Homo sapiens: one gene and its partner. The protein of the gene in region 2 purifies or fractionates together with the protein of the main gene of each other region. This does not show direct contact. Each region holds a gene or a part of one and is shown on either strand. Other genes may lie near its edges. The genes, in order: AFG3L2 and HSD17B12.

Region 1 (3,820 bases), on a different chromosome or scaffold from region 2:
TGGATCAACAAGATGTGGAACAGCCAAACAATGGCACATTTACTTGGCCACAAAAAGGAATGAAGTTCTGATGCCTGCCACAATTTGAATCAATCCTGTTCATTATGTTAAGTGAACATAAACCAGGCACAAAAGACCACATGTTTTTATTTTTATTTTTTTGAGGTGGAGTTTTGCTCTTGTCACCCAGGCTGGAGTGCAATGGCGTGATCTCAGCTCACTGCAACCTCCACCTCCCAGGTTCAAGCGATTCTCCTGCTTCAGCCTCCCGAGTAGCTGGGATTACAGCACCCCCACCACCACGCCCGGCAATTTTTGTATTTTTAGTAGAGACAGGGTTTCGCCTCATTGGCCAGGCTGGTCTTGAACTCCTGACGTCAGGTGATCCACCTGCCTTGGTATCCCAAAGTGCTGGGATTACAGGTGTGAGCCACCGTACCTGGCCAAAACCACGTTTTTATATAATATGTACAGAATAAAAAAACCTAGAGAGACAGAAAGTTTGATTGTCTTGAGATGGAATCTTGCTCTCTCATCTGGGCTGGAGTGCAGTGGGGTGATTTAGGCTCACTGCAACCTCACCTCCTGGGTTCAAGCCATTCTCCTGCCTCAGCCTCCCGAACAGCTGGGATTACAGGCATGCACCACCATGCCCGGCTAATTTCTGTATTTTTAGTAGAGACAGGGTTTTGCCATGTTAGCCAGGCTGGTCTCGAACTCCTGACCTCAGGTGATCCACCTGCCTCAGACTCCCAAAGTGCTGGTATTACAGGTGTGAGCCACCGTGCCCAGCCCAAAATGTTTTAAAATTATAGTGATGGTTGTACAACCCTGTAAATATACTAGAAACCATTAATTGTACACTTTATACGGGTGATTTTTAGTTAACTTTATTTCAATAGAGCTTTTAAAAAAACGCTTAGGAATAATTCCTACAATATTTATAGAAAAAAATGATACACTGTCAAGAATTTTTCACAAAATACTCCCGAGGAAGCAGAAAGAGAAGAGGGTATAGATAAAAGTAAGGTCAGATGTGAATTAGTAATTGTTCCTGAAACTAGGTGACAGGTACAGATGGGTTCATTACACCATTTCCTCAAAATCTGTGTATGTTTGAAATTTCCCATAATAACAAAGTAAAAATAGTCGGGCACAGTGGCTCATGCCTATAATCCCAGCACTTTGGGAGGCCAAGGCAGGAGGATCACTTACAGCCAGGAGTTTCGGGCCAGCCTGTGCAACATAATAAGTAAGACCCTGTCTCCACAAAATCAAAAAATTAGCTGGGCATGGTGGTACATGCCTGTAGTCCCAGCTACAAACAAGGCTGAGACAGGAGGATCACTTGAGCCCAGAAGGTTGAGGCTACAGTGAGCTATGATTACACCACTCAGTCCATCCTGTGCAATTAAGTGAGACCCTGTCTCAAAAAAAATAAAAATGAGAATATAAACTTAGGAAGCCCACAGTAAAGAAGTGAAAAGGTAAGAAAGTAAACCGGTACCTGGTAACTGTTACTGATTTTAATATGCTTCTAAATAGGGTCCTCGTTATTTTCCACTCACCTGAAAACCCTGGAGTTAAAGATGCCAGTTTTCTTGCCAATTTATCCTTCTCCAGGGTACTGTCCAGTTTTAGCGGTCGGAGATGAACTTTGAAAATAGAAGCTCTTCCTTTTATGTCTGGTGGTCCTTTAGAAATCATTTTTAAGGAAAAGAAAATCATATTGAAACAGTCACACCTACACTCATGAGCACTGGACCTGCCCCAGCAAACATCATCTCACCAATAAAGATCTGCCTGTCGAAACGCCCCGGCCTAAGCAGCGCGGGGTCCAGGATATCTGGTCGATTGGTGCCGGCCAAAATGACGACATTTGTTGTTGTATTAAAACCTGAAAGATAACAAAAATGCAAACACTATTAAATGACAAGAGGCAGAAAGCAACAGTGCACCATCAGGAACATATGAGCACTGCAAATTCATAGCTACAGTAAACACATTTTCTATTCATTATCTAGTGTTTTTTGTTTTTTTTTTTTTTGAGACGGAGTTTCACTCCTGTTGTCCAGGCAGGAGTGCAATGGCGTGATCTCAGCTCACTGCAACCTCCGCTTCCCAGGTTCAAGCAATTCTCCTGCCTCAGCCTCCCGAGTAGCTGGGATTACAGGCATGCCCCACCACACCTGGCTAATTTTTGTATTTTTAGTAGAGATAGGGTTTCTCCATGTTGGTCAGGCTGGTCTCGAACACCTAACCTCAGGTGATCCACCCGCCTGGGCCTCCCAAAGTGCTGGGATTACAGGCGTGAACCACCGCCCCTGGCCTATCCAGTGTTTTTTAAGTTACAAACTTGAATTATTTTTTTACTATTCAGCTCGTCCTTGAAAATAATCATATATTAGACTTAAAAGTTTTACGAGTAAATTTCCTAAAGACAAATGACCAAATATTTAAATTTAACTAGAAATTTAACAGATAATGTCAATTTTAAAAATGTCTTAAAATCAGATTAAATTGGCAAAGGATGTGTCTGACACCCTGGGCCACAGGACAACCAACTGCCTATCTGAAGGCAGAGATCAACCTCTACCTCCCACCTCTTCTCCACACTCAAATGGCTCAGTGTTACTGCCCATTTCTCAGTGTAAATGCCATGGTCCCAGGCCCTTCACCCTCAGGACCCTGGCACGGCAGGAGCTCCTGGGTGAATTTCCCTCAGATGTGGTGCTCCAATGTGAACGCAACAGGGGCTGACCATCGCGGGACGGAGGAGGCTTTCTACCTCCTTATTCTGCCCCTATGCCTGGCTTCATCATTGAAGCCAGTTCAGTACTGGCACTGTGCTTCCCCTTTCTGCACAAACAACCAAGCATCCACATTTTTATCTTCCAGCAGGAAGAACACATGACATCCTGAGAAGTGGCTTTCCTAAATGAAATAAAAGCTGGCTAGCATGGAAAGACTGCTACTCTCTTAGTAAAAAAGTATTCAAAATTTGCTAAATTCACACTTGGTTAGGCTTAGATTTTCCTTATGCTTCAGAGATGGTGATGATTTAGAGAATGAGATGGTAATTCTTTTGTGACTCATTTCACCAATTCTTCTCTTATTCAAACACCAGACACAAACAGCATGTTAACACCGATATTAAGTTATGCAGGCTGCCAGGAAAAAATATTTTGCTATTATTTGTATTAGTATAAAAGGGCCTTTTAAAAGAGCTGTTTGTTTTAGGGAATGCTTTTTTTTGTTTGTGATACTCAATATTGGAATAAGGACTCTCATTTTGGGGACATGAAAGGCATAAAAAGTGCAGCTTAAACTCAGGAGACTGAGGCAGGAGGATCGCTTGAACCCAGGGGTCAGAGGATGCAGTGAGCCGAAATCACACCACTCACTTCAGCCTGGACGACAGAGTCAGACTCCATCTCAAAAAAAAAAACAAAAGTGCAGTTAAAGATACAAAAGCCTTGACCACTCACCATCCATCTCCACCAGCAGCTGGTTGAGTGTGTTCTCCTGCTCACTCTGCCCTCCAAAGTTGCCTCTTCCTCTCTTCCTTCCCACCGCATCGATTTCATCGATGAAGAGGATGCAAGGGGCATTCTTCCGAGCAAGGGCAAATAAGTCTCGGACCTTGGCAAAAACAGAAAGAGAGTCACCTGACCAGAGAATATTATGTATTCTCTGAATAAGAAATGAAATAAATCGGCCGGGCACAGTGGCTCATGCCTGTAATCCCAGCACTGTGGGAGGCCGAGGCTGGTGGATCACCTGAGGTCAGGAGTTCGAGACCAGCCTGACCAACATGGAG
Region 2 (3,820 bases):
CAAACAAACAAACAAACAACCCCTTATTTTTCAGAAGTACACACTCAAGAATTTAGAATTGAAGGACCATAATGTTTGCACTTACTCTCCAATGATAAGACAAATGCGGTAAAATGTTAACAGTAAGAAATCTAAGCAAAGGGTATCAGAGTATTGTCTGCACTATTTTTATTCTTGTAACTTTTCTGTAGACTTGAAATTATTTCCAAATAATTTTTTTAAAAACAGAAGGCTTATGAAAATTTTGCAGAATAAGAGTTCAAGAGGTATAGTTTTAGGATTTAGTCTTAGTCTTAGCTACTTCCTGCTTGCTCAGTATTAACTGCTAGTCAGTACAGGGTAGACAGAAGGAGCCCAGGGCTAGGGCCCACTACCTAGCCAGTCAAATTACTTATAATAATTTTGCCTTTTGAAAGACACAAGTGTCTTTTTTTTTTTTTGACTGGACTTTAATTATAAGGTAATGAGAACAAACAGTCCTCATCAACAGACTACACTTATGATAAGGTTTCCTTGAGAATGTGCTTCTCATCCTCTGTTCAAAATCAAATAGTCTCTCAGGCCCATCATTCACCTCCAGGGCATTTACATCACTTGTTGTTGTTACTGTGTTTTTGCATTCCCAGGAAATGATTATATAATGGCAAATCTGAATTCTTGAAGGCAATTTTAAATGATCTTATAAAATTATAGGAAAGAAGTTAAGAAGTTGAGGGAAAGATGGGGAGAGAAATGCAAAAGAAAAATATTAAGAAGTAATCTGAAACAATCTAGAATTTGAACAATATACCCTCTTCCTTCCCCAAAAGAGCAATCTGATGTACATTCACACGGAGGTAGACCTAAAAAGATAGCATTCTTTGCAAGGCTTAGAAAAAAATGGAAACATGGCCACATAGCATTAGTCTAGAAGCCATTCAGATAAAGAGGCTGAAAATTCAAGGCCAGGAGCATATGGGAGCAATAGAAGAAGCTCAAAAAGCCATCAAAACAGATGCCTGTGTACCACAAAGCTTGACCATGCACAACCAGAGTTTTCTGTGATGCCATGGAAAAGGTGGGTCTCCCGTTTACCACAAACAACAAGTGCCGCCAGCAACACAGAGACAAATAAGATAAAAAGCCCTGTTCTCGAGAATACATGGAAGTGGGGAGACAGGGAAGGGCCAGACAGTAGCAGGCAGAGGTATACAAGGAGCTCCAACGAGAGCCCAAAGAAAGGCCTAACCAAATGTGCCAAGGAGCTGAGAGAAGGCTTTCCAGGGCAGGGGAACTGTGGCCCAAGCCTTGAGAGAGGGACAGCAGCCATAGGGTTCAGGTGCAAATAGGGCTGGGAGGAGATACAGTGAGAAGAACTGGAGAGGAGTTGGGGAAAGGATGCCAACAGAGGAGCCAGTCATGGGCACTTCAGAGGGCAGAGCATGTACTAGACACTGGGATGTCCACTCTGGCCTGAACGTCGGGGAGGACAATGGAGTGGCAAGAAAGGAGATGGCCTTGTGGAGTTCGAATTTAATCCTAAACCTTATGGGCAGCCACTGGAGGACTAGGAAGGAAAGCAACATTATCTGATTTGTATTTTAATAAGATCACCCAGGAAACATGTGTGGGCTGGAGTACGAGGCAGAATCAGCTGATAAATACTCCTAGTCCAAAAAATTTGTGGGCATAAACACCGCCAAAGAAAAACCAATCATTTTTAACTCTGAGCTTCATTTAGACTACATTTTTTTTGCCCCTTTGATCAGAATTAATAAGAGGTTCTCTTTCTATTCTACTTCAACATTCTGATGTATTCACACAGAATGACGACTGTGCTTTCCCTCACAAACATTTGAGTCTTTATTTTTTCATCAAATTCATTCAAAGTTTAAACCTTGAATGAATTCATATGACAAAACACAATGACAGATGAAATGACAGTTTATACTTCATTATTAGGGAAAAACAAAAGTTTATCAAAATAAAATATTTCAGAAGACAAATGCTAATGTGTTTTTACAGTAGCTTCTAGTCACACCAGATTACTAGGTGGAAAATCTGGAGAAAAGATCTTTGAGGGAAACAAGTTGTGAGAATGAGAGAGGAGACAGTCTTGCTTATTAACGGAATTTTAGAAATTGATTGTCTGTTCACAAGGCCTAATGCTACCTTCTGTCACTGAGACACTTACAGCTTCTGGTCACTCTGCTTATAGTCAATCACCAATGGACCTTTTTAGGATTCCTGCCTAGTCGCAATAGGTGTTTACAAACTATTCAGTTAATAGTGTAATTACAATTAGATTCATCAGAAAGAAAATGGTATACCATTGCCTGGCATGTGATACCTTCCCATGAATACCTTCTCATGGAATGTAATAGCTTCTCAAGAACATTTTACTGGTGTCCTTGTTACTAAAATACAACATATTCTACATAGAACATTCGCATTACTAACATTAAAATGACTGGTGTCAAGGAAAGGGGAAAAAGAGAGTACAGTAATTTAGTATAAAATCCAGGATTCTAGAACACATGTCCTTCCGAATGAAACCTATACATATGGGAAGCTGCAAGTCAGAAATAACACCAAGTGGCTATGACATCTAAGCTTCCCTTGGATGAAAGCTCAGGTCGGGGTTTAGAGGAAGCAGGCTCTTAGATGATCCTGGAAGATGAGGAAACAGTCATCCCCCCTTCCTTTCATTACCATTCTATCTCACAGTAGGTGACTTAGCTCCCACCAGTATCTACTCAATAAAAAGGTTTAGAAGCTACATCTACATGACATTTACACCCATCTTGATGCTCTACAGGCATAAAGGAGGAAATGGAACTAACCAACCACCTTCTGGTTCCATCACTCCCTGAGCACAGATGGATCCAGTAAGTGTTCAATGTTGACTTACAGGCCTGGAGCAAGTAGCCTAGTGGTTAAGAACAAAGGCTTTAGTGCCAAACAGACCCAGATTTGAGTCCCAGTTCAACATGGGCAAGTGGCTTACCCTCTCTAAGCCCCAATTTCTGCAATTAAAAATAATAATAATCATCATCACACCATTGTATGAGATTGTTATGAGATGCAGTGAAATGATACATATTAAAGTGTTTAGCACTGTACCTGAAAAGTATCCACTCAAATATTCACTATTATTATTTTGATCGATCATTTGTGGCTTCAGGATACAAAAAGTGAAATACTTGCCTCACAGGAATGAAAGCCACAATGAACACCAGACGTGCACAGAGGTGGGGTAGCTGATAGGCAGGAGCAGCAAAGAGGTACAAATTGCAACTTCTCCCAAGACATTTTTTAAAAGTGCCTGAGCATGGAAATACTATTTCTTTCAATTGAAGAATGGTTAATTTGAAATTGCCAACCATCAAAACTCCTATATTTGCTTTCTCTCATATTTTGTGTTTTCACAGCATTATATCTGCTAGCTACATAATAAACTCAAAGGTATATAAAAGTTAACTCAAAATGGATCAAAGAGCTAGAACTAGAAAACTCTTACAGGAAAACAGGGGAAAAGCTTCATGACACTGGATTTGGCAAGCATTTCTTGGATTTGACACCAAAAGCACCAGCAACAAAATAAAAAATAGATAAACTGGACTACATCAAAATTAAAAACTTTTGTGAATAAAAAGATATTATGCAGACTAAAGACAGAATAAAATGGCAACTCACGAAGTGGGAGAAAATCTTTGCAAATCATGTATCTAAAATGGGACAACATCCAGAATATATAGATCATTCCTACAACCCAATGACAAGAAACCAAACAACACGATTTTATTAAACATATGCAAAGGACTGGAATAGACATTTCTTC

What was found.
Region 1: the proteins of HSD17B12 (region 2) and AFG3L2 fractionate together in Homo sapiens (co-fractionation; one large-scale study listed by BioGRID). This does not show direct contact.

What each region holds. Positions count from the first base shown.
Region 1 is NC_000018.10:12,349,517-12,353,336, forward strand, and holds part of AFG3L2 (mitochondrial inner membrane m-AAA protease component AFG3L2), read right to left. Parts: intron 3,643-3,820; coding exon 3,489-3,642; intron 1,898-3,488; coding exon 1,790-1,897; intron 1,695-1,789; coding exon 1,569-1,694; intron 1-1,568. UniProt on the Homo sapiens protein: Catalytic component of the m-AAA protease, a protease that plays a key role in proteostasis of inner mitochondrial membrane proteins, and which is essential for axonal and neuron development.
Region 2 is NC_000011.10:43,841,181-43,845,000, reverse strand, and holds part of HSD17B12 (very-long-chain 3-oxoacyl-CoA reductase), read right to left. Parts: intron 1-3,820. UniProt on the Homo sapiens protein: Catalyzes the second of the four reactions of the long-chain fatty acids elongation cycle. This endoplasmic reticulum-bound enzymatic process, allows the addition of two carbons to the chain of long- and very long-chain fatty acids/VLCFAs per cycle.